7 separate regions of the Homo sapiens genome follow, and regions 1, 2, 3, 5, 6 and 7 are each reported to be linked to region 4. The links are microRNA targets in miRTarBase. Many come from high-throughput screens and were not tested one by one. Region 4 holds a microRNA gene; each other region holds the end of a gene's coding sequence. Distances are from middle to middle.
What was found. Region 4 holds the annotated microRNA hsa-miR-6779-5p (CUGGGAGGGGCUGGGUUUGGC, at 2,286-2,306, shown strand). A microRNA usually pairs through its seed, bases 2 to 8, with sites in the 3' UTR of a target mRNA and lowers its output. Matches are read on the target gene's strand: a 7mer-m8 pairs with bases 2 to 8, a 7mer-A1 pairs with bases 2 to 7 and ends in A, and an 8mer does both.

Region 1 (4,090 bases), not on the chromosome of region 4:
TGTTTCAGAAACCGGTCCCAGGGCTGGAAGGCCTCCAAGTTCCACTTCCCTCAGTAGCTCCCAGCCACTCACCTTGGCAGTTTCTTAAAGGACACAGAGCCAAGCTCTGGAGAAAACAAAGAAGTCACAATCACAGGAGAGTCAAAATTCCCATTGGGTGACAGCGTTTATTGAAAGGAAATCTTGCTTTATCCAGGAATTCACTCACATGGAGGTAGCTGCAAGGAGAATGTCTCTTTCTCATGACAACCAAAGCGACCAAACCATACCCTAAAGCAGAGACGCAATGGAATAAGTCAACGGGCATTGTAGAACGACACTCAGAAGCAGGAAAAACCATAAAAGATACAGGATGATTGTCTCTTCAGTATTGCATTTGGCCATGTATGTGTTTTTACATAAAATATATGTTTTCTTTTTAAGCTAGCTAAAGAAAATACTCTTGATCGGGGTTAGTTCTTAAAGCAAAAAACAGAAGAAAAGTATGTATATATAATAAAATTAAAGAACGATAGCATGTTATACCTGGAAAGGACCGTGGGCACTAATCTGCACTTTGTTCCAGGTAATCCATGGCTCTGAGAGTGAGCACACTGTCAAAGTCACTGGGGTGAGATGAGCCGGGACTTGAAAACCCTTCTCTTAACTTTCAGTCTCAACTCTTCCCACTCCACTATACCGCATGCGTTGCCAACTCCCTCAGAGTGTAGGATAGCGCAATTGTCAAAACGCATAACAGCCTATTTTTAGGGTAATGATGCAAGTGTTTTGAAAAGTGACCTGTGTTCTCTTTGCATGGGCAGTTTTGCTTCTTGTAGCCAGCCCCATGGCTACTGGAAAGAACTGGCCAGAATGAGGGGCAGCTACTTTCTCACAAACCAAAACAGACACACACTCCCAAAGTTCTTGGGTGTGCTGACCTTCCCCAGCAGCGTCTCTAGGTATGAGTGGGCTGAGGCTTCTCTCAGCAGGCTTACTGGCAGATGTCTAACGATGGGAGAAGCAGCAGGGAAATTATGAACATATTGAGGGTCAAAGTGAGCTCTAGGGAACCAGGCTTGTTGCGTCCTCAGAAGGACAGACAGAGGGCTGAGTACAGAGGTGCTCAACCTCCATGTCGATTTGATTGTCATTTATCACCCCCTTTCCTGACACTGAGCTCCAGGAGGGGAGGAATTTTTGCCTGTTTAATTCACTGCTGTATTCTGTGTGCCAAGGACTGTGCCTGACACATCACCGATGCCCAATAAATATGTGCTAAATGAATGAATGACTAAAGGGAGGAATCGGCCACACCCCACATAAGCAGGCAGAGGTGAGAATCACCCCTGGCTGTGGTGAGGATGACAGTGACCCTGTAGATGTGGAAGGGGCTTGGCTGTCTGGCTCCAGACTCCCACCCTTAAACTGGGCTGACCACTCTGAAACCTGCCGGGTGGGCTCTGACCTGGCACAGGTGGGACTCCATGGCTACTGTCATGGAGTCCTCTGGCCCACAGGCCCCCACCCTATTGGGATGGTTGGGGACACTGCTGAAGCAGCTGAACACTACCATCTCTGCCACATATATGTCACCAACTCACAGGGTCCTCTCCCTGACCATGTCCTGTCCCATATTCTGACCTGTGGAAGCCCAGCTGTGACTGGGCCTGGCCTGTGGGCATGCCTGGGGACTGTCACATTGTGAAGTGACACAGGAAGGCCAGGAGGGAGTCCCTGGATATGTAGCATCCTCCCGATGCTATGCTCCCTGAAATTCCTCTCCAGCCATGTGGCCTGGCCCCCAGACCTCAACCACTCCCTGCCAGCCTGCTGCTGGCGATGTCGCTTTGTTCCAGGAAGTTGGAAGGAGTCCTCCAGTTTGCACAGACACGCCTCTGCCTGACTTCTGTTTCTTTCTTCCCTTCCTCGACATAACCCTGAGATCCTGCTCAATCCACCTCTTGCCCACACATCCCCCAGCTTTCAAGAACTTCTCTGTCTTCCTTCTCACACTGGGCCCCATACCCACATCTGCCTATCTCCTCTCTCATCTCCCTTCCCCCATGACCTTACCAGACACCTCCCACCTCATTCTCACACCTAAGTCTATGAACCTTTCCCCCATACCCTCTTATTCCCCCGATCCCAAAAGCTTGCTGTGGGACATGACCACACAGCCCTATCCTTCCAGAAACGGCCTCATTTGTTTAAGGCCTTACCTACAACTCTCCCTACCCAACCTGTGTAAAAGAAATTGCAATCAGTGACTGGGAACAGGTCTCAGAACAGTTCAGAAATTATAACAGAATTCCAGATAAACTAAGCAAACAAGGCCATAGCTGCAGTCACAGACACAAGCAACCTTCTGGCTTTCCCCTGTGCCAGTGACTTGTTTACCCAGACCATGTGAACTGCTATGCTCAGTCTTAGCTGTCCATGACCACTACAATTCTTCTTTTCCAACTTTGGTTTCCAAACTGGTCTTTGACTTTATTTGACTTTCTCTCTCTCTCTCTCTTCTCACCTCTGCTCCTCAACACTTAAAATCTAATAGCTTCATATTTTAAAAAAGAATACTCAATGGCTGGGCGTGGTGGCTCATGCCTGTAATCTCAGCACTTTGGGAGGCTGAGGCAGGTGGATCACCTGAGGTCAGGAGTTCAAGACCAGCCTGACCAACATGGTGAAACCCCGTCTCTACTAAATACAAAAAATTAGCCAGGAGTGGTGGTGGTCATCTGTAATCTCAGCTTCTTGGGAGGATGAGGCAGGAGAATCACTTGAACCAGGGAGGCAGAGGTTGCAGTGAGCCAAGGTTGCGCCATTGCACTCCAGCCTCGGCAACAAGAATGAAACTCCATCTCAAAAAAAAAAAAAAAGAATACTCAATATAGATGCATGAACTTTACAAACCAGCCACCCTACCAAGCCTCCATCACATTCCAAACCCAACAGCAGCAGTTCGTGAGAAGGTCTGGTTTAAAATATGTACAAGCTATACATGGTTTCCTCCCTGCACAGTGCTATTAAGTAAGTCCTAGCCTTCTGGACCCTTTGTCTTGGCAGGGGGAGTGATGAGGGGGCAGGGACAGCAATGCAAATAGTGGCTGTGGAACAGGGGCCTCAGCCTACCAAAGTGTATCTCTCACAACACCCCAGTGGGTGGTGGCTCCTGGTCCTCAGGCATCCCAACATTTTAAACTGCAAAAGCTCTCTGTCGAAGACCCACTGAGAGACCCTGGCGAGGAATGTAACACTGAGGAGCTGGCATGCTGTGCAAAGAGGCTGTGATTGGTCTCAGTGGCAGACAGATGCTCCCCTCCCTGCCTCCCACTTTGGGTGGCTGCAGCTCCTGCAGGAATGACAGGTACTTCCACAGCCCGGGAGAGCACTCAGATCTGGCTGGCGACGGTGCTGTCCTTGGAGAATGTGTAGCTCACAGGCGCCTCATAGAGGCTTCCCCCATCCGTGCTGAGGTCATCGTCGTCATCCATGTCATCCAGCACTTTACTCGGCAGCTTCTTCAGTCTGCTGAAATGACAAGGGGCATGTTTCCTGGCCCTGGGCCGGGGCCCATAGCTAATTTGGACTTAAAGGGAGGGTTTTGGGTTGCTGTCCCTGCACCCCACTGAGTGGCACAGAAAAGAAACACATGAATGTAACAGGTCTCCACCTGATGGCCCCTTCAGCCACAGGGAGTCCACCGCCCCCATTTCGGCACGGAAAGCCTGTGCTGGTGGGGTGGGCCAGGCTGGGATAGGATCAGTATTGTTGATTTCCCCAGGCTGTTATTATTGATCTTGTCTTAATTTAAAATTTTGGTATCTTGTTCACCATGGATTGCATGCATTATCTTTTAAATATTGCATTAAAATGTTATCTATCTTAATTATTGAGATTTTTGGTGCCCTCTTAAATGCTGCACCCTAATGCCAACCTTGGGGCCAGTGACCTGATAGGCCCTGTTTTACAGGACTCTCAATGGGCTGGAGCCTTCTGTCCATTGATGAGAACTACCCGGGCAGCCAGCAAAGAGCCCCACGTCACAGCCAGCCTCCAAGAAAGGCTCAGCTCTATGGATTACCATGAACCTAATCTCATGAACCTT
Region 2 (4,093 bases), 34 Mb from region 4:
GGGACCCCGAGGAGGGGGAGGGTGGTTACCATGGCGATGAGGGCGCCGCTGGCACCATCACCCAGGCTCCCCCGTACGCCGTGGCGGCCCCTCCCCTGGCAAGGCAGGAAGGCAAGGCTGGCCCAGACTTGCCCTCCCTCCCCTCCCATGCTCTGGAGGATGAGGGGTGGGCAGCAGCGGCCCCCAGCCCCGGCTCAGCCCGCAGCATGGGCAGCCACACCACACGGGACAGCAGCTCCCTCTCCAGCTGCACCTCAGGCATCCTGGAGGAGCGCAGCCCTGCCTTCCGGGGGCCGGACAGGGCCCGGGCTGCTGTCTCAAGACAGCCAGACAAGGAGTTCTCCTTCATGGATGAGGAGGAGGAGGATGAAATCCGTGTGTGAGGCGGACAGTGGGTGGCCACCGGGAGCTCTTGGCTGCATCTTCTCCCTGCCCCCACCCCACTATGACCTTTGACCCTACGGCGCAGGGGCAGCCAGGACCCTTGATTCAGACCATGGACCCTGGACCTTGTAGATGAGGGACACTGGCCTGGCCCTCGGGTCTTCGGAGGACGTAGGGGGCTGGCATGGGTGCCGACTGGCTGCCTGACTTCATCATGCTCCCTGCACTTAGGCTGCGTGGGACAAGGGCTGTGTTGTCACAGCAGGAATAGGTTTTCCTCTGTTGGCCTCCCTTTCCTCCACCCTGGCCTCAAATGGATGCCAGATGCCAACCCCAGTTCTGGCCACGTACAGCCAGCGGGTCAGCCCAGAGGCAGCCTCAGCTCCAGGGCTAAGGACTCTCGGCTCCCATTTTCTCTGCTGGCGTTTCTGCTGTGCCCAGCAGTGGCTGCTGGGGAAGCAGCTGCAGCAGGAGGGAGACGGTCTTGCCTCTCAGCCCCTCCCTGCCCCACCCCAGCTCCTGCCCTGGAAATCTGGAGCCCCTTGGAGCTGAGCTGGACGGGGGGCCAGCTGCGAGCATGTGCACTAAACGCAGCCCTTTCCAGGGGAAGAGAACAGGATGGAGAATGGAAGGAAAGCCCCCCAGGCTTCGTGAATTGCAAGAAGGGACCCTTCCAGGATGACACTAGGAACAGGGCTAGGGCACTCGCTCAGTCCCTAGGGGCTTGTTTGTTCTTTATTATTGTGTTTAAATCCTTATAGAGCAATATCAGGATGGTGTTAATAGGTCTGCCTCAGAATGAGAATCAATCCTTTTAGAAAACCTTTATACTAAGCCTCCTCTTCAAAATTCACAGTGGCGATTAGCGGACTGGAGTCTGGTGGCGATTAGCGGACTGGAGTCTGGGGACATCCGTGGCAAAGACACCAGCTCAACTTTAGTGCTTCCCAACTTTATTTAGAATGACATGGGGTGGGTGTCTGGTGTGTGTGTTTTCCCTACGCACCTCCCATAGCTATTAACAACTGAGGAAGGCCAGTGCAGAATATTTTTGGAGAACGATTTTTTTTTTAAATAATATATCATTCCTATGGGGGGAAAGCCTTTTTTTTCTTTTTGGCTGAGTTATTCCCTCCCTCCCCTCAATACCCTCAGTACTGACTACTTCCCTTTCTTTTCTCAGGCCTCCCCCCACCGACTTTTGAGGCCAGGGTTGGCCAGATTTAGCAAAACCAAAACAGAGTGCTGAGTTAAACGCAAATTTCAGGTAAACAAAAGATAATTTTCTAGCATTAATATGCCCCACGCAATATTTGGAACACTTATGTGAAAAATGATTTGTTTTTCTGAAATTCACGTTTCTCTCTGAGTCCTGTAACTGTCCCCGAGGGGATTGAGCAGAAGCTCGGGTATGAGCCCTGAGGTTGACTGCCGGTTATTTTTCTGTCCTGGGAACAGCCTGACCCACCTCCCTGTCTCCATGTAGCCAGTGAGGGGAGGGGGAGACACAGAACCAACCACAGCCAGGGGCGTCCCCATGGCGACTGTGGCCCGGCCCCTCCTCTCTTGCCTGACTCTCCTCTCTTGCCTGACTCTAGACACTAACTTAGTTCCAGGTTCGGTGCCCTGTTGGTGCTCCTGTTTCCAATAGCTTAGGTCCCATGGTGGGGGAGGAACCTCAGGGGCTATGCAGCCCCCGCCAGCTGCCCTCGAATCCCGTCCAGGCCAATTCCAGATTCTAAACTGATTTTTTTCATGATATTGTCAAAACAGTGAGGAAACATTAAAAAAAAAGCCCTAAAGCACGCCTGGTGTCTGTCTCTGCTTTTTGGGAGGGCTATTTCAGGATGGGGGTGGGGTCTGGACCCAGGTCCTAGAGCTGTCCAGGGGGGCCTGAGGTGGCTTCTGTCTCTCTGTCCGTGAGGACCCGCCCTTCCTGCGATGCTGTCTGCCTGGGCAGGCCCCTTCAGAGTCTGGGGACTCAGGTGTCCCTAACTGCCATCTCTTGGAAGCCCTTGGCACTTGGTCGCTTAGCTGTTCTGTGCCTCCCTCTCCTGCTCTGTAAAATGGGTATCCTGCCACTCTTAGAGGGTTGAGGCACAGAAACAGTGACATGGGCTTTTTGTGGGGGAGGGGGTTGGTTTTTTGTTTTTTTTTGTTTTTTTTTTTTGTTGTTGTTGTTTTGTTTTTTTTGAGATGGAGTCTCACTCTGTCGCCCAGGTTGGAGTGCAGGGGTGTGATCTCAGCTCACTGCAACCTCCGCTTCCTAGGTGCAAGCGATTCTCCTGCCTCAGCCTCCCAACTAGCTAGGATTACAGGCGTGCGCCACTACACCCAGCTAATTTTTGTATTTTTAGTAGATACTGGGTTTCACCATGTTGGCCAGGTTGGTCTCCAACTCCTGACCTCAAGTGATCCGCCCACCTTGGCTTCCCAAAATGCTGGGATTACAGGTGTGAGCCACCGTGCCGGTCGACATGGGCTTTTTATACAGTTGTGATTAGGATGAGAGTGACTGTGTTCTCCCCAGCCCCCTGGTGTCCTGGTGCACGGAACTGTCACCACCAGAAAGTGGCTGGCCCTGAAGGCAGTTTCTGCATGATGCTGGGAGCGGGGCTACCACCTCCTCTTTCCCCTTTTACCGTTAAGCCTGGAAAATCAGCTTACAAGTGGCAGGTCCTCAGTTCAACCTCACTTCTCAGGGAGATAGAAGCTCCACATCCCCATTTTCCAGATGGAGAAAGATGATCAGATAAGCCTCGAGGCCGCCTTCTCTAATGCCCAGAATTCATTCAAAACTCCTGCCCTTCTCACCCCACCACTCCTGGGCACATCAAAACCTCGGGATATAAAGTCAGGGGGTGAGGGTCTAGTGGCCCCTGAACCCACTGCCCTGCCCCTGCCCTACCACCTCCTTCCCTTGAATCATGTTCCCCTCTTTCTGGACAGCTTCAGAAGGGAGCCCTGGTCTGCGTAGGGCTGGCTCACTGCTTGTTGAAGCCCCCGCTTGCTCTCAGGAAATCTGGGGAAATCTTGGGGATCTCAATGTGGCTGAGTTCCTGGTGGAAACCCTGCACTCTCCCCTGAGCACCCACAGAGAAATGTGAGTTCCCCACTCATCTCCCTGGAAAGCAATTAGAGGCATAATTAAAATGTCACTCAGGTCCCTCCCTCTGTCCCTAGACAGGCTCATTCGTGTGGGAGTTATGAGCGGGGACTTCTGGCTGCCCCAAGGGAAGAAGAGAGAGGGAGGAGAGCTGGGGCCCATTGGGAGACGGGTCCCTAGGGGCTACAGTCTAGCTCAGGGATGACTGGGGAGAGGAAGGTACTGTTCAGGCGAGGACCAGGCAGATGAGAAGGGGCTGTGCCTCCCAGACACAGTGCAACCTCCCAAGAGAGAGAAATGACTGTACCTACACCGACTAACCAGGGACTCCCTAGGGGCCCAGAGAAACCAGCCGCCCCGAGCCCCAGAATCTGTTTCTTGACCATTGATGGAAAAGCTCTGAGCATTCAAGAAGACCCGGGGACCTGGCTTGATTCACAGCTTTAAGGAGCATACCTTCTGGCTGGGGGTTCAGTGGACCCAGGAGACAAGGATGAGATGAACACGCAGAACCAGCCAGGCCACAGAGCTCTGTTAAGATTTGCTGGGAGCCAGGCGCCGTGGCTCACACCTGTAATCCTAGCACTTTGGGAGGCTGAGGCA
Region 3 (4,000 bases), not on the chromosome of region 4:
TCAACACTCCATAAATCTATTTATTCTAAATTTGGGTTTTAGGCATAGTTAAGAAAGTAATTACTGTTACTGGAATTCACCTGATAAACCATGTATAACATAATTCATTGCAGAATCACATTAAATATCAGTTAAACATGTATTATTCATAAAGTTTTTTGTTATTAGAAAAAGACCTTAAATGCTTGGCAACCAATTCTAATAAAAATTTTTTTTCTCTTTATAGGAGAGTTAATCTTGGTCTATCTGGTGTGAATATATTGTGGATCTTTGGCGAGTAGCAAGTCATATATTTAATTCTGACATTTAGACTATTTCACTGAACCAGAAGTCGAAACTAAACATCTCTGAGCCACTGACTCTTCTGAAATAAAATACACATGGGTGTATGTTACAGACTCTTTAGATTTAACAGAAAATGTAGCTGTTATGAAATGTAATTGTAAAAATATGTCCCGTATCTTCTATATCGAGACATTGCCTTTAATTTTATATCGCTTTTCAGAAATTTCAGTTGACTACAAAACTGCAACCCTTCGGATTTTTATTGACTCAAAATAGTGCCATTCCCCTTAATGAAATAGATTTTGAGTCTTTTTTTCATTGTAACCCCCAAATGAGAATCATCTACCTGATTCTTGTACCAAAAAAAAATTTTTTTCAGTCTTTTTTTTTTTTAGAGAGGGTCTCTGTCAACGCAGACTGGAGTGCAGTGGCACGATCTTAGCTCACTACAACTTCTGCCTCCCAGGCTCAAGCAATTCTCCTGCCTCAGCCTCCTGAGTAGCTGGGATTACAGGCATGCACCACCACGCCCAGCTAATTTTTGTATTTTTAGTAGAGACAGGGTTTCACCATGTTGGCCAGGCTGGTCCCGAACTCCTGACCTCAGGTGATCCACCCACCTCGGCCTCCCAAAGTGCTGGGATTATAGGTGCGAGCCACTGCGCCCAGCCTCAGTTATTTTATTTAACAGTGTAAGTACTTAGAAAGTAAGAAAATTGCTGATTTAGTTTTTTTTTTTTTTTTTTTAATGTTTCCCCAGCATTCTGCAAGTTAGGCCAAAGCCCACATTCAAAGAAATGAGATTAACTCTTAAGTAATGTATTAAGTTTATGTATATTTTAAAATATTATTAAAGGAGGTTTGAAAGTATTGACATTTAAAAAGTCAACACTTAGATTAAATTTAGCTGGTAGTTTTAATTTGGGTTTTAGTTAAGAGTGTGAGGACATCAGGAAAACTGTTTACTACTTTGGTTTTAGCAGCTCAGTTTTACTATTCCATAATGTGTTATTTTTAAAGTTCTCTTTTTAAGATCACAGTGATATCCTATCTTCAAATTTTTTAAATATGTTCAAAATATCTGGAGGGTGAGAAGTTACCAAGTTTGTATGTTTTGTTTGACTCACCATCTTTATTTTCTGTATATGTAGTAGCTGGCAATTGCATATATTTTCTTGATTAACATATTAGAGACTGCTTCCATCATCTTATGTAAACCTGGAAACAGCTGAAACTAGTCTTTTCTGAAGAACCGTGTATCAGTGTTAGATGTGCATCCCGTTTTGTCATTCCCTCAGACTTTGAATACAGTCATTACTCTCTGGAAGAGAAATGTAAGTATATTTTTTGTTATCTGCAGTATGGTTTAACATGTATTAATAATACACATATGCAGACTCACTAAAGTATCCCCAGTAATTAGTAAATTCCAAATTTAAGTCAGTACAGTTCTGTATTTGTAAATTCTGTCTTTCAAAAAGTTGTTCGTGTTTTTAAAAGTTGATGTCCAAAGGAAAGGAGCTTCTTTTAAGTACTTTTGGTGTATGTTGAATATTTATTTGCTATGATATTCTAGAAGAAAATATCAAACATGTTAAATATAAGAACATGTTAAAATTTAAATTTGCTATTTCAAAAGTTACTGAAGATGTCTTGGAATAACAATTGTCATGCTGTTAAACTAGTTGCATATACTTCATTAAAAGCACCATGGAGAAACATTTTAACAATGCATAAGATGAAATGTCTTTTTTTCTTTATAGGACTTAGATAGCTTTTAGTCTAAAAATTCAAAGCTTTAATATTATATTTTTAAAGTGACTATCAAAAAAATACAGTCTACAGTAAATATATACATAGGGATACACACTTAAAAAGATGTTTTGTTTGCATACTATTAATAAGTCTAGTGTGGATTACTGTACTCTGGGTAGCTTTCCTATATTAGCTTTTCTTCCCAAATATTTGAGCCAGTTTGTACTTAAATATAGCTTTTATTAAAAATACTTTGGTAGATTCATTTGAATTCACCCCTCAGGAAGACAGTGCACTGCAAATAAGGCAATTTTTTTAGTCCTTGTGTTAAAATGGATAAATGCCTACTAATATCTCTGATCAAATGTTATTTACAGGATATATGTCACAAGTTTTTCTTTGATTGCTTGACTTCTTGTGGGATCAGATCCACTAATCTTCTAGATTACATTCACTTCATCATTTATCCTTTTCTTTGTCTATAAATATCATCCTTAAGCCAGATTTCTTTTAGAGGCATATTAGGTGTTTATAATTTAGTTTCTACTGAGACATACAAATGTTACGTTGTGTGGCTTTCTTTCTCAAACTAAAATATACTTGACACTGATATTTTATATTTTAACAGTAAAGACACGCAGCATGTGGGGTGGCACTTTTTTTTTTTTTTTTTTTTTTTTTTTTTTTTTGAGATGGAGTTTCACTGTTATTGCCCAGGCTGGAGTGCAGTGGCATGATCTCAGCTCACTACACTCAGCTCACTGCAACCTCTGCCTTCCGGTTTCAAGCGATTCTCCTGCTTCAGCCTCCCGAGTAGCTGGGATTCAGGCACCCGCCACCACGCCCGGCAAATTTTTGTATTTTTAGTAGAGATGGGGTTTCACCACGTTGGCCAGGCTGGTCTTGAACTCCTGACCTCATGATCCGCCCATCTCGGCCTCCCAAAGTGCTGGGATTACAGGCATGAGCCACCACACCCAGCCCTTTCTAGACAGCTTTGTAATAGAAATGCGCACATTGAAATGCACACATTCCTCAAAGGTCAGTCTTTGGTCCTCTGATTCACTGTATATGCTTTTCCTTAGAGATCTCATTCATTCCACTTCATTTATCACCTCTCTGCCTTTGACTCCCGAATTCATCTTCAAGCATAATGTTTCTCCTGAGCTGTAGTGTTGATTTCCATCTACCTGTCAGACATTTCCGCTTGGATATTCTGTGAACTCCGTGTCTGGAACTGCGTTCACATCTGCTCAAATCAGCTCCCTCTACTTACATCCCTTTTTCTGTTCATTGTACTACCAGTTACCGATGCTCAAAATTCTGGTGTCATCTTTTGATTCCTGGAGCTCCCTGGGTCCCCAATCCAATCAGGCAACAAACCTCATCCATTCTTTCTTAACAATGTCTCTTGCAGCTGCACTTCTTCCATTTCTGCCACCACTATGCTCATTTACACCCTTATCAACCCACACAGGACTACTGCAACAGCCTAATTAATCTCACAGCCTTCGAATTGTTGCCATGCTTCCATATTTTCCAATTCATCCTGCACATTCTCTTCAAATTCATCTTCCTAGAACACCTGTTTGATCATTTCATCCCCCTGATAAATTCCTTAGCCTGACATTTAAAGCTCCACACAATCTGGCCCCAACCTGGCCTCATGCACCTAAACCCTTGGCTCCAGCCAGTGCAGACTGCTCACTGCTTGCTGGGTTCTCTCTATGCTACCTCCTGCTCATCCTGATCACTCTCTGGAGATGCCCCCTCCCAATCTACTGTCTTCCTCTGCATTGAGACTTCCTCTAATTAAACCTTCTATTTGGAGCTAGTCCTGACCACTCCAGATGGCAGTCATTTCTCCCCTTGAGTGATTAGATCTGTGCCCCTCCTTTGGCACTCAACAGCTACATGAATGGATTCAGAAGTGACTTTTAGTCGAACAGTAGGTCCTCAT
Region 4 (4,093 bases):
GCCTGGGGCCAATCAGGATCTGGATCTAGCAGGGAACACCGAGGCCGGTGTTCTCGTCCCACCATGGGACTCAGCCTGAAGAAGACAAGGTGAATGAACGACCATTTCTCTCTAACTCAGTTGGCTAAGAGGACTGAGCTGGCGCCGAGGCTCTGGACACAAATGGGCCAGTTGACCCTGAGGTTTCTTTCTGGTAGTGGAGGTGGGGCTTCCTCTGGCTGACCCTGCTTAGGTCTCTGATGGAGGTAGCAGGGGCTCTGGTTCCCCCAAACTGGCCAAGTCCTCCACCATAGCACCCAAGGGGTCTGGGCAGAGTGCAGCTTCCCTCCCCTCCCCAGCTTGGCTTGGTGGGCACCTGCCTCCCCTGCCCTCCTGACCTTGATGGCTAATGCAGCCAGCCCCAGGCAGGCACAGTCACAGCCCTCAAACAACATGAGGCCCAACTCAAGACTCCTGGGTGGTGGTGGTCAAGGTGGGGGACTCTGTAGCCAGTAGAGCACTGTGGGGGCAAGAGACTGACTTGAAGGCTTGGAGCCTCACATGCCCGCCTAGTGGGGTGGTCCTGAGGGATATGACTTCTTTGGGCCTCTCTGCTCATTTTTGGAACCTGACCCGAGAAGGAGCCCATCCAAGACAATGTCCCGCCCTCAGGGAGGGTCTGGCAGTTTTTATCCCTAAAGGCTGGGATTCTCAGCGGAGCATCCTAGGCTGTAGTACCCACGACATCTTGCACACAAGAGGTGGAATCGCCTGTTGATGAAGAGCAAGGCTCTGGAATCTGTGATCTTGGGCCACTCACTTCACTTATCAATCCCTTCGCTTCCTTCTTGCCTGTTACATGGGGTCTGCAATCTACCCCTCAGGGGCGCTGACGAGCTCACATGAGCCTGTGACATAAAACACCTAGCACGGCCCTGGCGCAGTAAGAGCTCAGGAAACGGGCTGCTGCTGTGGTTACTGTGGACCCAGGCGGAAACAGAGCAGCCCCGCCCCTGCCGCAGGCATATAAAAGTGACCACTTGGCCGGTCACGGTGGCTCACGCCTGTAATCCCAGCACTTTGGGAGGCCGAGGCGGGTGGATCACCTGAGGTCAGGAGTTTGAGACCAGCCTGGTCAACATGATGAAACCCTGTCTCTATTAAAATACAAAAAATTAGCTGGGCGTAGTGGCAGGCGCCTGTAATCCCAGCCGCCCAGGAGGCTGAGGCAGGAGAATCACTTGAACCCTGGAGGTGGAGGTTGCGGTGAGCTGAGATCGTACCATTGCACTCCAGCCTGGGCGACAGAGCCAAACTCCGTCTCGAAAAAAAAAAAAAAAGAAAAGGGACCACTCACTTTGGTCTGATTCTTCAGTTCTCATGGTCCTTTTACATCGGTCATTTCATTGCATTCTCCAACAGTGTCTGAGGGAGACTGGTGTCTCATTTTGCAGAGGTGAAAACTGAGGCTTGGCAAGATTAGGTAGCTTGTCCAAGGACACACAGCTGGTGCTTCCAGAGCGAGACCTGGCTTTCTGTACCCAAAGCTCTTGGGTAGTCTCTCCCATCCTGGGATCTTGAGGGTCACGGGAAGGAACTGGGTGGTTTGCAGTGGGACCCTTCACCTAGTGCCTTCTGACCTTGCAGATAAAATACCATGAGGAGTTTGAGAAGAGCCGCATGGGCCCTAGCGGGGGCGAGGGCATGGAGCCAGAGCGTCGGGATTCACAGGACGGCAGCAGCTACCGGCGGCCCCTGGAGCAGCAGCAGCCTCACCACATCCCGACCAGTGCCCCGGGTGAGTGCAGGTCCTGTTGGTGCAGATGACCTGAGGCGAGGCCAGTGGGGTGGGGAGGAAGCCAGGAGAAGACAGACAGACAGATACACCTTCCGGAGCCTTGCTCTTAATCAACAGGCGATTATGCCTCTTGTGTGCAAGAGGGGACCAGAGGACCTGAGGCCGGGCCAGCTGGGGTGGGGAGGAAGTCGGCGAGAGACAGACACACACACACACACACACACACACACACACACACATGCACGCACGCATGCAGGCGAGGAAAAGACTGCTTCCCAAGACCCCAAGTTCCATTCTCATCCAGAATGAGGACGTGAGCACCAGGGTCAGGCCTGTACTGGGCCAAGAGGATTGAAAGGAGAGGCCCCCAGGTCATGGGGCTCAGAGCCCCTGCGTGGGATACAACACACAGGCAAATGTGCACACGTGGACATCAGCCTTTGAGCTGTGGGGCTTGAGCCAGGTTGGGGGCGGGGTGGAAGTGCATGGTATGGACTTCTCGGGAGCTCTGGGAGGGGCTGGGTTTGGCAGGACAGTTTCCAAGCCCTGTCTCCTCCCATCTTCCAGTTTACCAGCAGCCCCAGCAGCAGCCGGTGGCCCAGTCCTATGGTGGCTACAAGGAGCCTGCAGCCCCAGTCTCCATACAGCGCAGCGCCCCAGGTGGTGGCGGGGTGAGTAACCCTGGCCGGAGGGGAGAGGCCAGAGGCAGGGGGTCCTTCGGGAAGGCTTGGACACAGCTCATGGATTCTCCTGACCTTTGCACCCACCCTCTGTTGTGTGTGATGATAAGGATCTCAGCCTTGTGAGCAGAGAGGAAATTGGTTGGCGTAGTGGGCAGAGGCTGGCTGGGACTGGGGCCCTGCGTTCCAGCCCTGGTGTACCATGGGCAGGTTGCTCACCCTGCTTTGGGTGGGGTTTCCTTACCCCAGCTACCTGGGAACACACAAGGCAACTTTCTGCATGGGGCCTTCCAGCACTGGGCGCTGCTCTCCTCGCTTCATGAGGATGGCCCCCACATCCTTCAGCTCTCAGGCTGCCCCTGCCTCTGAGGGGCCTCCCCAGCCATGTCGTGTAAAGCGCATCACCCTGATGCTTTGCATCACTCGACTCCGCTGGCTGCCTTCAGAGCACTTTTTCCAACTAAAAAGAGCTCTTCGTGTTGGTCACCTTCTCTGTGTCCCCTGCTGGGCTGGGGACCCTGGCAGCGTCCGTCTGGTTCACCTACTCTGAGCCAGGCCTAGAGCAAGTGAATAAGCCCAGCAGGAATGGGGTGAGATCAGGCTTCCTGAGCCCTCAGAGCTGAAGTCCCGGCTCTGTAAGTCCTGCCACTCACTCCACCCATGGGTGCCGCTGAGCCACCCTTACCAAGCTCCTGGCAGGCTCAGCGCCTCCAGGCTGGGTGCCTGGGAATTCAAAGTAGCTCACGTAGGAGCAGAACAGATACTTAGAGAGATAAAATCGCCTGAGATAATGGCTGGCTGGAGTCTGATGCTCTGGGCACACAAACAAAGGGATGTTAGGACTGCCCAGGGCACTGTGGGCGCAAGAGTTAGTCTGAAGTATAAGGTTCCAGGCAGCCCAGCCAGTCCCTCCCTCCTCAATGGGTCTGTCCTGGATGTGTAGGGTCCATCTCTGAATATAAAGCCACCTCTCTGCCCTCTGGGGGCTTACATTCCAGTCAGGGGGACAAACAAGAAAACAATAAGAAAATAGGTGTATAACATAAGGTCAGCGGTGACACGCTGTGAAGAGAAAGACAGCAGGGTGAGGGATGGATAGAAAGCAGCTGGATTAAGACATTTGGCCGGGGGTGGTGGCTCACGCCTGTAATCCCAGCACTTTGGGAGGCCAAGGCGGGCAGGTCACTTGAGGTCAGGAGTTCGAGATCAGCCTGGCCAACATGGTGAAACCCCCTGTCTACCAAAAATACAAAAATTAGCCAGGTGTGGTGGTGTATGCCTGTAACCTGTAATCCCAGCTACTCGGGAGGCTGAGGCAGTAGAATTGCTTGAACCCGAGAGGCAGAGGTTGCAGTGAGCCAAGATTGCACTATTGCACTCCAGCCTGGGTGACAGAGCAATATCTCCAAAGAAAAAAGACATTTGGCCGGGTGCGATGGCTCACACCTGTAATCCCAGCACTTTGGGAGGCCAAAGTGGGCAGATCACCTGAGGTCAGGAGTTCGAAACCAGCCTGGCCAACATGGTGAAACCCTGTCTCTACTAAAAATATAAAATTAGCTCGGCATGGTGGTGCATGTTCATAATCCCAGCTACTCGGGAGGCTGAGGCAGGAGAATTGCTTGAACCTGGGAGG
Region 5 (4,093 bases), not on the chromosome of region 4:
ATCCCAGCACTTTGGGAGGCCAAGGTGGGCGGATCACCTGAGGTTAGGAGTTCAGGACCAACCTGGCCATCATGGCGAAACCCTGTCTCTACTAAAAATACAAAAATTAGCTGGGCATGGAGGCATGTGCCTGTAATCCCAGCTACTCGGGAGGCTGAGACAGAAGAATTGCTTGAACCTTGGAGGGGGAGGTTGCATATCTGAGTGGTGAAATTGTGATTCTTTTTTTCTCTTTGTCTGTATTTTTGAACTTTTCTATAAATGATTGTGTTTTGTTTTTATATTGGAAAAATATTATGCTTTCAAATGTTAATACCTATGAAACTAAACACAAGTAATAAATATATTAGTATAGCATTTATTAAGGTTTCTTGTGTAGCAGATCAACATAGAAAATATATTTAAATGGCTGACATAATTTTCTAAGAATACATACACGTATATTTTTTATAACATTAAGAAACAGCAGCATCATTACTTTAATCCATCATTTCGTTAACCACCATATACCTGTTGATCATTTGTATTGTCATGTGCTTTTTAAAAATCTAGATGAGAAATATTCGATTATCTGACTTCACTGAATCCTTGAAAAAAATAAAACGCAGCGTCAGCCCTCAAACTTTAGAAGCGTACATACGTTGGAACAAGGACTTTGGAGATACCACTGTTTAAGGAAATACCTTTGTAAACCTGCAGAACATTTTACTTAAAAGAGGAAACACAAGATCTTCAATGAACGTCATCGGCTACAGAAACAGCCTAAGTTTACAGGACTTTTTAGAGTCTTACATATTTGTGCACCAAACTTGAAGATGAACCAGAAAACAGACTTAAACAAAATATACAATGCAAATGTAATTTTTTGTTGTTTAAGGCCTTGCCTTGATGGTCACAGTTATCCCAATGGACACTAAGTTAGAGCACAACAAAACCTGATTCTGGTCTTCTTTACCAATATAATCATAATGTAAATAATAATTTGTATATTGTGTTGCAGATGAAAGTATTCCAGGAACAGTGAATGGTAGAAGACACAAGAACATTTGTTTGTTTGTCTTCTGATGTTTTTTCTTAAAATAGTAATTTCTCCTACTTTTCTTTTCTACTGTTGTCTTAACTACAGGTGATTGGAATGCCAAACACTCTTAAGTTTATTTTCTTTTTTCGTTTTATAAATTCAGTGTGCCAAATGAAACTTTTTTCCTAAGTAACTGTAATAGGAAAAAGTTTATTTTGAGAGTTTCTTCTTCATAAATCTACAGACATTAAACAATTGTTGTGTTCTTTTTACCTTTTATTTTTCTATTACCTTGCTACCAAACAGTTTAGATAGCAATATAATAGCAAAAAAGCAAATATGGTAAAATAGAGAAGGTTTGAAGGTTTGAGTTACTCTGTCATATAACATGTAGATCAGTCTTCATGTGACCTGCAGTATTTTTTTTTCTAATGTATTTGTCAGAAATCTGTTGTAGACTGTTAACTTCTTCCTGATGGAATTTATTTTCTGCAAGAATTATTCTGATATTTAAGAGAGCCAATTTTAACTGCTGTGAAAATGTTTCCAGTGCAAGAGAAGGGAAATACTAGGAACTAAGACATTTCTAATTTATTGCTTATTACTTTCTTAATTTTACAGGATAATTATAAGCAAGTGGAACTACCATCTTTTATTCTTAATAATTATTAATCCCTTCAATGAAACTTTAAAAAAACTGAATTTTTATACATGGCATACATTTTTCTAGTTCCTTCTGCTTGCTTTATTAACTCAAAAGTTCTAGTTCTAGTCTGTTGATCTGCCTTTTGTTCTCCCAAAATGTACAGTAATTCCATTTGTTTGTATAAATATGCCTGGATTTTCATTATAAAAATGTCATTGTAGGGAGTAGAGACTCATATCATGGCCTTTTAAATATTGTAATAAAGGCAAATAGATATTTGCCCTTAGTTTACTGGTTAAAAGTTTGTTTACAGAACTTTTCTCTGGTGCTTAAATGATGCTATGTAAAATGTCATGAGTGGAAAGAATATTTGTAGTAGTAACAAGAATTTTTCATTTAGGAAAGATTTCTTAGGTTTTGAAAGAATACATTAAAATAAAAAACTTGCCCCTACTAGGTAAGAACTTTATAATGAAGACATACATTCTTCTTAATTTTACTCTTGCTCTTGTTAAAGATTTGTTTGAATATAGAAGATGCATGATTTCTGGGTTTTTTTTTTTTTTTGAGACAGAGTTTCGCTCTTGTTGCCCAGGCTGGAGTGCAATGGCGCAATCTCGACTCACCACAACCTCCGCCTCCCAGGTTCAAGCAATTCTCCTGCCTCAGCCTCCCGAGTAGCTGGGATTACAGGCATGCGCCACTACCCCAGCTAATTTTGTATTTTTAGTAGAGATGGGGTTTCTCCATGTTGGTCAGGCTGGTCTTGAACTCCTGACCTCAGGTGATCCGCCTGCCTCGGCCTCCCAAAGTGCTGGGATTACAGGCATAAGCCACTGCGCCCAGCCAGAAGATGCATGATTTCTTAGGATCATATGCTGTTTGTAGCCATAAGGTAAATCATGTCTCTTCCAATCATGACTTTGGAACTCCCTGAATAATAAAAATGAGAGTTGAGATAAATAGGGGAAAAAAAATTTTTTTCAAGCCAGAGCTATGCATATGTTAGGTGATGGGTAGTATCCCTTTAAGGTCTCAAACATTACAACATCAATTATGAAATACTGATAACGAAAGGTAGTAATGAAATATATATGATGAAAAGAATTGAGAAGTTCTAAATTAAGACATTTCAGTTAAGCTCATAAAATTTCATTGTTTTCATTTAAAAGATTAACGTTATTGATACTTGGATAACTGGCTAATCATATTAAAGGACTATGTGGTTCCAGCTCAACTTTTAATATATTGTCTCCTTTAAAACTATCATGGTTATAATTCTATTGGGAAAGACTTTTAGATAACAAAGATTTCAAATGTTAAAAGAGATAAAAGTCAGGTTAATACTATCTTAAACACTGAGTCAGAAAATCATTACTGTATAGAAGTTGCTTTCCTGATCAAGTCTGAACTTCAGCTAGTGCTAGAGAACTATTTTCTATGACTTAACTCTAACCAAGTTTTATTTTAAGCTGTTTCTTTGATAGAAGGGCCATGAAAATAGAGTAATGATATAGTAGGAGATAAGGGATTGGTTTGGTCTTTTTCAATAAAGATAGAAGTTGCTGAAGTTTTCTGAATTAATAATGACTTAGATTGTGACCTTTTAGATTCGGTGTTGAGCTCTGTGTTGTATTACTTCCTAAAAGATAATGCTTAAACATTAAGCATTAGTGTGCTCTTCATGTTAATATGGCAGAGTTTTGTAAACTAAATTAAAACTTACTGATATATTGGACTTTGAGCCAAGGGAAAGAATGAGTACTATCTTTCCAGATATCTTAAGGGTAAAAGCTTATTCTAAGACAGTCTGTCCATTGAGAATATTAGATTTCTGACTTGCAAATATGTTTGTACTCCAGAAGAATTAGAGGAAAAGCAGATACTAGAATTCTAATTTAATTACATATACAGCCGTCTTTGTTTATAGTGTAGAATTCTTTATATTTTGTACAAAAACTAATTCTTTTGGTAAAATGAACCATTTACAGTTCGGTTTTGGACTCTGAGTCAAAGGATTTTCCTTTAAATGCTTGTCTCAATTTTAGTCTGGTCTTTTGTACTTTTCTTCAGAAGAAATGAATTAAAGGGTACAGTTGCATAAAGTGGGTTTTTATCCTAATGTATTGGAAATAAATGATAAACTTTATTTTGTCTTTACTTTTTTACTTTAAAACTTTTTGATATTTTAGGGGTTGGAGTCTGATAATGAAGGAGTTGTGTGTATTGGACTCTTAGTAACAATTATAAACGCTTAACAAAATATAGAAAGCAATGATTGGGTGGCTCTGCAGAGCAATCAAAACAAGGTAGAAACTGCAAAGTCCTATAATGGAAGAGATTCAGGCTGGGTGTGGTGGCTCATGCCTGTTTGGGAGGCCAGTATGGGAGAATCGCTTACACTCAGGAATTCAAGACCAGCCTGG
Region 6 (4,000 bases), not on the chromosome of region 4:
ATATGTCTCATCTTTGAGACATTAATGCCATTGTCACTCCCATATTTTCTCTGCCCTCCTCAAAGGCCTGCTGACTTTCCCTGATGGTTCTCATGGAATCCCCCGCAATGAAGGTCTCTTTGAGAACAACAAGCTGCTGCGACGTGAGAAGTGTTCTGCCATTGTTCAGCGGGCCCAGAGCGCCTCCAAGTCAGCCAGAAATCTCACTGCCTGACAGCGCAGTGGGCACCAGCTGATAAGTATTGGGTAAAGCCAGTGCCCCTGTTGTTGATTCGAGGTGAACAAATGAATCAGAGCTGAGATGAGTTGACAATGACAGTGGAGCAGAGGCCTTGTATGTGCCCTGTCACCTGCCATTCCAGAACTGGACCACAGAAAAGTGCTGAGGATGCTGGCCAGCAGACCCTGCAGCAGTCATTGGTGGTTCTGTCTTTCCCTAACCCTTATGTGCTGGAGGACAGAGGAGCCACCTCTTCTCACTGGTTGATACTCTGTTCCTAAGACCTCAGGTTACCCAGTGTAGCCTGCTGTGACCCTTCTGCTTCATTTTCTGCCAAGTGATACAGAACCTTCGTTCTGCTGCTTTGGGGACAGGTGATCCTAGCCCCAGCTTAGGGCCAGTGCTCTGTGCCACTCTGGAGAAATAGGGAAAAGATAGGGGTGGCTCAGTACAGCAGCCCTGTGAAAGTCAAGGCCAGAGCTTTTCTTTTTTAATTTTTTTATTATTATTATTATTATTTTATTTTTTATTTTTGAGATGGAGTTTTACTCTCGCCCAGGCTAGAGTGCAGTGGCATGATCTCAGCTCACTGCAACTTCTGCCTCCCAGGTTCAAGCAATTCCCCTGCCTCAGCTTCCTGAGTAGCTGGGACTACAGGAGCGCGCCACCACACCCAGCTAATTTTTGTATTTTTTTTTAGTAGAGACGGGGTTTCACCATATTGGCCAGGCTGGTCTCAAACTCCTGACCTCGTGATCCACCCGCCTTGGTCTCCCAAAGTGCTGGGATTACAGGCGTGAGCCACCACGCTCAGCCTTTAATTTTATTATTATAAAAAATTGAGCCAGGGTCTTGCTATGTGGCTCAGGCTCATCTCAAAATCCTGGGCTCAAGTGATCCTCCTGCCTGGGCCTGCCAAAGTGCTAGGATTGCAGGTGTGAGCCACTGTGCCTGGCTGGCAGAGCTTTTCCATATGTTACTCCTCATGCTGGTTGGAATCATGGCTGCAGGCTTCCACTTGGTCTGATCAGACTGGTATTCATTCCTGCCTATGTCCCCGTGAAGGATTCGGTAAGAGTGCTATTTCCTCCTCCCTTTAGAAGACAGGCTGTCTTCTTTCATCAACTTAGAGCAGATAATCCCCATGTGTGCCTCTCTCCTTCCTTAGATGGGGAACAGGATCCCTTTTTGGGACAATCAAGAAAAAAACTCATGTAAACAGTAATCTTATTACTTGTATTTGTGACTAACTCCAGGGAAAAGGGTAGAATATTTAGGCCACTTCAGGCACTACCATGGAGTGAACTGAATTCATACGGATGGCTTGGGCTGACACAGTTTCTTCCCAGTGGACCAATAAATCAGACTCACCCGAACCCCTGGGGTTTTGGTAGAATTGGACCTACTCTAGGACTGTGGGGAACTAAAGGAGCATTTGGCTCACTGTAGCTCTTCTATCATGAGCCTTGACCGTCAGGCCGCAATCAGACCTTACTGATGGGATCTCTGCAGTTTATTACGTAGGCCTCCCGTTACCCTGGTACCCAAATACGTCCCCCACCTCTAGCTCCCTAGCCTCACATTGAATGTCTCTTCAACAGCAGATTGTGGTGGAAGTTATAGCCGTGTGCCTCTATTTATTCTCTGAATTGTACTGTAGAAAAAGGTGTTTATAAAGAATAAAGAAATCACCAGAACTGCCTATACCTAGTTTTCCTGACTTTCTGGCCCTGCGTCTTCATGAATATCAACCCATTTGCTGTTTGTAAAAGTTAATCGGGTTAGCCCTTGGAACTGACCCTGCACACTTTATCAAGTCATCTAATTTTCTCAGCCTCTACAGAGGAGGACGTATGAACTTTTTTTTCTTATTTAAATCAGACAATCTCAGGCTGTCCCAACTAGTAGGTAGCACAGCTGGGTGAGATTTGTAACCGAGCCTTTCTGATTCCAGCTCCCTTTACTGGACCTCTCTCACCCTGAGCATCAGAGTACTTAAGTCCTGAGACTAGTTATGGCCACACCTGCTGGGTTACCTCTGGCAGGTCCACTCCTGCCGGAGTTTCCCTTTTTCTGCAACAGGAGAGTGGTGGAACATTGACCCCCACGCTAACCCTTTTACATGCACGTCCTTGTTGGAGGAAGGTACTATTATTATCCCTGTATTACAGATGAGGCTCAGGGAAGTTAAGCAGTTTCTCCAAGGTCCCATAGACACTAAGGGGCAGATCCCAGAACTTAAACCCAGACCTGTTTAAGCCCAGAGGCTGAGCTCTTACCCAGTGCACTACCCTGCCTGCCTAGCCCTAACTTTTCCCCCAAGTCCTAAACTTGATTCTCCTCTGAGCCTTGCTCCTCTGGAAGTTGCCTGTGAGAGGACCCCAGGCACTAAGCCCCAAGCTGTAGTGCCATTCAGAGCCTGGTTTTGGGTTGAAGATTGAGATCTTTTATTTTCTCTCCTTTAGCCTCTGCCCTAAACAAGTATCTATTTACCTCTCTTTTTAACCTTACACTTTCTTTTAAGGAGTAATTTTTTTACAATGTATCTCCATTTTTCTGCCACTAGTCAAATATTACCACTGAAAAAGGTTAAATATTTTGGAGAAAGCATCCTTTTTTGTTGTTGTTGTTGAGATGGAGTTTTGCTCTTGTGGCACAGGCTGGAGTGCCATGACACGATCTCGGCCCATTGCAACCTCCACCTCCCACGTTCAAGCGATTCTTGTGCCTCAGCCTCCTGAGTAGCTGGGATTACAGGCGTGTGCCACCACGCCCGGCTAATTTTTGTATTTTTAGTAGACATGGGGTTTGCCGTGTTGATCAGGCTGGTCTCAAACTCTTGACCTCATGTGATCCTCCTGCCTCCGCCTCCCAAAGTGCTGCCTGGCCCTAAACACTTAGCACTTTAATCAAAAAGGATGCTGAAGGGGTGCAGTGGCTCACGCCTATAATCCCAGCACTTTGGGAGGCCGAGGCAGGAAGATCACCTGAGGTCAGGAGTTCGAGACCAGCCTGACCAACATGGCGAAACGCTGTCTCTACTAAAAATACAAAAATTAGCCGGGCATGGTGGTGAACACCTGTAATTCCAGCTACTCGGGAGGGTGAGGCAGGGGAGTCACTTGAATCTGGGAGGCAGAGGTTGTAGTGAGCCGAGATCGTGCCACTGCACACCAGCCTGAATGACAGAGCAAGACTCTGTCTCAAAAAAATAAAATAAAAGTGCTAAGTGTTTGTTTCTAAATAGCTCACTTGCTCTCTTTTGCCTCTTACCCCTTCCCCAGGTCTCCAGTAAGTGAATGCCTGTTGGCTCAGTATTGCTGGGGACACTCTTCGAGCTGGGAGAAGGCAGACCATCAGAGCTCTTTTGCCTTTAGAAAGGTTCTTGACATCTGGCCAGGAAACCTAAGATCTGCATAGCAATAGAGTGTCCATCTTTATATAGCCACACTAATTTTTTCTGTTAAATTTTATTATAGTAACAAAGTGACTATTTTTAATAATAAAAGCAGAGTGCCTGTAGGCAAGTGGATGGCCCTATCTCAGGCCAAGTCTCCTTAGTGTTTCAGACCTAGGCTGACCAGAATAGTCTTCTAGAATGTAACATTTATCCACCAGGTGTCATTATTTACCAATCTGACAAGCCACTGGGCTGTCTCCGTGCATTCAATGGTTGGAATCAAGGCTACAGACCAGAATAGGAGATGAATGAAAATAGATTTAGAAAAGGGCGTTGTGGCTGGAATGCAGCTTGCAGTGTGGAGGGCAGGGATGGGAGGG
Region 7 (4,093 bases), not on the chromosome of region 4:
TAGGCACTTAGAAACCAGATCAGACCAAAATGGAGTCACTCATGCTAAATGCCACATAACGAAACTGAAACTTAAAGGAAGCGAATAGATCCCTATACAGATGAATTTTTCCATCGAAAACCAGTTCAGTATCCTGTTGGCCAGACTGGTCTCAATTTGAGAAACATCAAGACACCTCCATAGTCAAGGCTAATAATGTCCAGGCTGTGTCCTGTTCATCACCTAAACCTGCACCTCTAGTGTTCCTTACCTTCACTGGCCATCCCAACACAGTGCCCGCCTCCTGTAGAAAATCACATCTGGAGTGAAGTTGGTGGCGTTGTTTGTACTCTAACCAAACTCTCAGAGTGCATTTGGCCTTCAAGGGAGAAGGATGAGGTCGTGTTTGGTTTCAGACACACCTAACTCTGTATTACCATCTCTTTCTTGATCTAAGCGACACTCTATAAAAACTGATAGGCAATGGGCTGGGTGCAGTAGCTCACGCCTGTAATCCCAGCACTTTGGGAGGCCGAGGCAGGTGGATCACAAGGTCAGGAGTTCAAGACTAGCCTGGCCAACATGGTGAAACGCCGTCTCTACTAAAAATACAAAAATTAGCCGGGTGTGGTGGCGGGCACCTGTAATCCCAGCTACTTGGGAGGCTGAGGCAGGACAATAGCTTGAACCCAGGAGGCAGAGGTTGCAGTGAGCCAAGATCGTGCCACTGCACTCCAGCCTGGGTGACAAAGTGAGACTCCATCTCAAAAAAAAAAAAAATGACAGGCAATGACAGTACCTTTCACTTATGTTGATACCTAATCTGGGGATGGATGTGTCATCTGCACATAGAGTCAGGGGTTGGTCACTCATTGCTGCTCTGTCCTGTGGTACCAGGTTTTGACTCTAGGGGGTTTCAAACAGGCTTCTCTGAAGAAGAGTTTGGCTGGCACTTCAAAAAAGTGATTGGATTGGTCCATGCCACTGCATAATATATAAAACTAACTTTTCCATGTTGCCTATTACTCTACAGTGTGGCATAAAAGGGTTGCTGAACTCCTGTTCGAGATCAGCCTGGGCAACATGGTGAAACCTTGTCTCTAAAAAAAAAAATACAAAAATTAGCTGGGCATGGTCCCAGCTACTTGGGAGGCTAAGGTGGGAGGATCGCTTGAGCCCAGGAGGTGGAGATTGCAGTGAGCCGAGATCACGCCACTGCACTCCACATAGCCTGGGTGATAGAATGAGACCCTGTGTCAAAAAGAAAAAAGAGGGGTGCATCAAGAGCATATTATCTGAGCAAGAAAGGCTTGGTTGGAATAGTGATACTGACTTTCATCCTTCCTAGGCGTGCATTCAGACAGTTACATAAATATATTGACCACACTTGACTCAGTAAGGAATTTCTTTAAAAGTATTATACAGCTTCCTAAGGAGTAAGTGATTTTATATATTTTTAACTGGAGCATTTTGTGGAACAGTGTTCATACACTCTAAGAAATATCTTAGGTTTTGGAGAATAAGTAAAGCAAAAACAGGTCCACAAGTCTGGGAGCTGCCTCCCCTCACCACAAGGCCAAATCTTAAGCCATGTCAGACACCTGCAGTGTGAAGCAGTGCTCCTCAGTGACCATGATGGAGCAGGACAAAAACGAGGGCATTCTGTAACCACGTCCCTAGATGGGATAGAAGAAAACATATTTCAAATCATAAAAATAACCAAAAATTCCAGTTCCCCTCTTCTCATAATGGACTGACCAGCAATTGTCTTCAATTAGGTTTACCTCCAATCCATTCTTTCTCCTTCTAGGTGAGAACTACTATGATTAGCAGTGGTACAATTAAGTTCACATCCTGACAGCATCCAATATACAAAAATGACTCACCTCCTTGAATAGAGAACAATGCACCTAAAACAGAAATCCTGTAAGAAATTCTACAGAGAACCCTCTTATTGGTATGTCCTGCAGTCATTTATGGCTTGTGGTCATATTTATTACTACAATTTATTACATCCTCTTTGACAACAGTTTTTTTAGTACTGGTGGTTTTGGGCAACACAGCACCATAACAGCAAGATTTAACTTCGGGGATTATAAAAGAATGACAAATTATGGTCAAGATAAAAATTGTGGCTGGGAACAGTGGCTCACGCCTATAATCTCAGCACTTTGGAAGACTGAGACAGGAGGATTGCTTTGGCCCAGGAGTTGGAGACTAGCCTGGGGAGCATAACAAGACCTCCTCAGTACTAAAAATTAAAAAAAAATTAGCCAGGCATGATGGTGCACACCTGTAGTCCCAGCGACTCAGGAGGCTGAGGCAGGAGGATTACTTAAGCCCAGGAGCTCAGAGCTGCAATGAGCTATGATTGCACCACTGCACTCCAGCCTGGGTTAAAAGGCAAGACCCTGTCTCAAAAAAAAAAAGGTAAAAATTATAAGTAGATATGCATGAAATGTATAATTTACATCAGGAAATAAATGAGGTTTATACACATGGTGATATTGATTCACAATATCAAACAAATAATTTGGTAACAGTATACATTTGATCTGATCCATGTTGACAAGGGATATTTTAATAGAGCTTCTCAGTATACAAAAAAAAGAGAAAAACATTTGCAAGTACACAACTGAAAAACAGTGAATAAACCTTTTTTTTTTTTTTTGAGACAGAGTATTGCTCTCTTGTCCAGGCTGGAGTACAGTGGCGTGATCTTGGCTCACTGCAACCTCCACCTCCCAGGTTCAGGAGATTCTCCTGCCTCAGCCTCCCGAGTAGCTGGGATTACAGGTATCCACCACCACACCCGGCTAACTTTGGTACTTTTAGTAGAGATGGGGTTTCACTGTGTTGGCCAGGCTAGTCTCAAACTCCTGACCTCGTGATCCGCCCACCTCGGCCTCCCAAAGTGCTGGGGTTACAGGCATGAGCCACTGCACCCAGCTGAATAAACTATTTTTAAGAAATATGTACAGAAATCTTTGCTCCCTCAAAAATACACATTGTCAATCACATATAATCAAAGATAACTGAAAATGAACTGAGGCATTACATTCTCCTGTGGATAACAGGAAACACTGGACATTTCCTGACCAGAGCAAGGTGTTCCTTCTCACATGAGAGTCCTGGATGAGACCAGTCACTGCACAGGGCAGCAGAGCTCTCATCAAGTTGGTTCTGATGGCAGCATAGTAGCTGTCAGGCTGAATCAAGAACAAGGTCACTACCAGCAGGAACAAAGGTGCATGTAAACAAATCACACCTCCTACCAACTCAATCTGCAGACTAGGGGAGTTGAGCATCAGAGAACATTCCCCACCCATGACAGTCTGCATTATCTCTCTGGTATGTACATTACAATACTTAAAGAAAAACCAAACTGTAGATAGAACTTGAATGTGGAGCTTCTGGGGACATCTTTGGAAACCTACACCTCTGAAAAAAGGAAAGTCAAGAGATTTGGAGGATACTCTTGATTGACAAGCCAGAGAATCAGGAAAATGGGCTAGAATCAGGGGGCCACACAGCCCATGTGAATTTGGCTGGCTCTAAAATGTGACTAAGGCCTTCCTCATGTCTGCCTTCGAAATCATATGTAAGATAGGCCACCAGTGAATCCCAGCGTGGCATCACCTAACTCCATCTCTACATTTTATTGCCTTCCTTTATTGACACTTCAAGCTGGGAGGGATGCTTGAGGCCAGGAGTTCAAGACCAACCTGGACAAGATAGTGAGACCCTGTCTCTATTAAAATAAAAATTAAAAAATAGCATTTCTCTCATATATTAATAGTGTGAGTTCTTTCATGTTTTCGACAGTAACTGGAACGAATGAAGGCTTTCCCACATTCCTTACATTGGTAAGGTTTCTCTCCAGTGTGAATTCTTTCATGTATTCTAATATATATGGAACAAGTGAAGGCTTTCCCACAATGCTTACATTCATAAGGTTTTTCTCCAGCGTGAGTCCTTTCATGTCTATGAAAGGAGCTGACACAATGAAATGCTTTCCCACATTGCTTACATTCATAGGGTTTCTCACCAGTGTGAGTCCTTCCATGTATTCGAATGTACTTGGCAGATCTGAAGGCTTTCCCACATTGCTTAC

Region 1: the mRNA of CGNL1 is a reported target of hsa-miR-6779-5p. Seed matches in the 3' UTR shown: 8mer at 2,737-2,744 and 8mer at 2,603-2,610.
Region 2: miRTarBase lists CDC42EP4 as a target of hsa-miR-6779-5p. Seed matches in the 3' UTR shown: 7mer-m8 at 1,390-1,396.
Region 3: miRTarBase lists TMEM209 as a target of hsa-miR-6779-5p. Seed matches in the 3' UTR shown: 7mer-m8 at 744-750 and 8mer at 911-918.
Region 5: miRTarBase lists SPAST as a target of hsa-miR-6779-5p. Seed matches in the 3' UTR shown: 7mer-A1 at 1,815-1,821, 7mer-m8 at 2,305-2,311 and 8mer at 2,470-2,477.
Region 6: the mRNA of MORN4 is a reported target of hsa-miR-6779-5p. Seed matches in the 3' UTR shown: 7mer-m8 at 822-828 and 7mer-A1 at 992-998.
Region 7: miRTarBase lists ZNF491 as a target of hsa-miR-6779-5p. Seed matches in the 3' UTR shown: 7mer-m8 at 3,668-3,674.

What each region holds. Positions count from the first base shown.
Region 1 is chr15:57,546,775-57,550,864 of GRCh38, reverse strand. It overlaps CGNL1 (cingulin like 1), which reads right to left. Exons shown (of 19, transcript NM_032866.5): 19 at 148-3,510. The coding sequence ends at 3,375. Among named protein-coding and RNA genes, the nearest start is that of GCOM1, 43 kb to the left of the region's middle.
Region 2 is chr17:73,281,720-73,285,812 of GRCh38, reverse strand. It overlaps CDC42EP4 (CDC42 effector protein 4), which reads left to right. Exons shown (of 2, transcript NM_012121.5): 2 at 1-2,189. The coding sequence ends at 383. Among named protein-coding and RNA genes, the nearest start is that of CPSF4L, 22 kb to the right of the region's middle. RefSeq lists enhancers at 510-1,066, 3,919-4,048.
Region 3 is chr7:130,162,732-130,166,731 of GRCh38, reverse strand. TMEM209 (transmembrane protein 209) reads left to right here. Exons shown (of 15, transcript NM_032842.4): 15 at 227-2,019. The coding sequence ends at 281. Among named protein-coding and RNA genes, the nearest start is that of LINC03008, 23 kb to the right of the region's middle.
Region 4 is chr17:38,912,699-38,916,791 of GRCh38, forward strand. MIR6779 (microRNA 6779) reads left to right here and starts at 2,281; the gene lies at 2,281-2,344. It overlaps LASP1 (LIM and SH3 protein 1), which reads left to right. Exons shown (of 7, transcript NM_006148.4): 5 at 1,627-1,777; 6 at 2,345-2,448. RefSeq lists an enhancer at 1-173 and a silencer at 3,977-4,093.
Region 5 is chr2:32,153,822-32,157,914 of GRCh38, forward strand. SPAST (spastin) reads left to right here. Exons shown (of 17, transcript NM_014946.4): 17 at 553-3,816. The coding sequence ends at 675. Among named protein-coding and RNA genes, the nearest start is that of SLC30A6-DT, 9.9 kb to the right of the region's middle.
Region 6 is chr10:97,612,477-97,616,476 of GRCh38, reverse strand. It overlaps MORN4 (MORN repeat containing 4), which reads left to right. Exons shown (of 5, transcript NM_178832.4): 5 at 66-1,922. The coding sequence ends at 214. It overlaps HOGA1 (4-hydroxy-2-oxoglutarate aldolase 1), which reads right to left. Exons shown (of 7, transcript NM_138413.4): 7 at 3,675-4,000. Among named protein-coding and RNA genes, the nearest start is that of MORN4, 19 kb to the left of the region's middle. RefSeq lists an enhancer at 3,932-4,000.
Region 7 is chr19:11,806,939-11,811,031 of GRCh38, reverse strand. It overlaps ZNF491 (zinc finger protein 491), which reads right to left. Exons shown (of 3, transcript NM_152356.4): 3 at 2,529-4,093. The coding sequence ends at 3,765. Among named protein-coding and RNA genes, the nearest start is that of ZNF440, 5.3 kb to the left of the region's middle.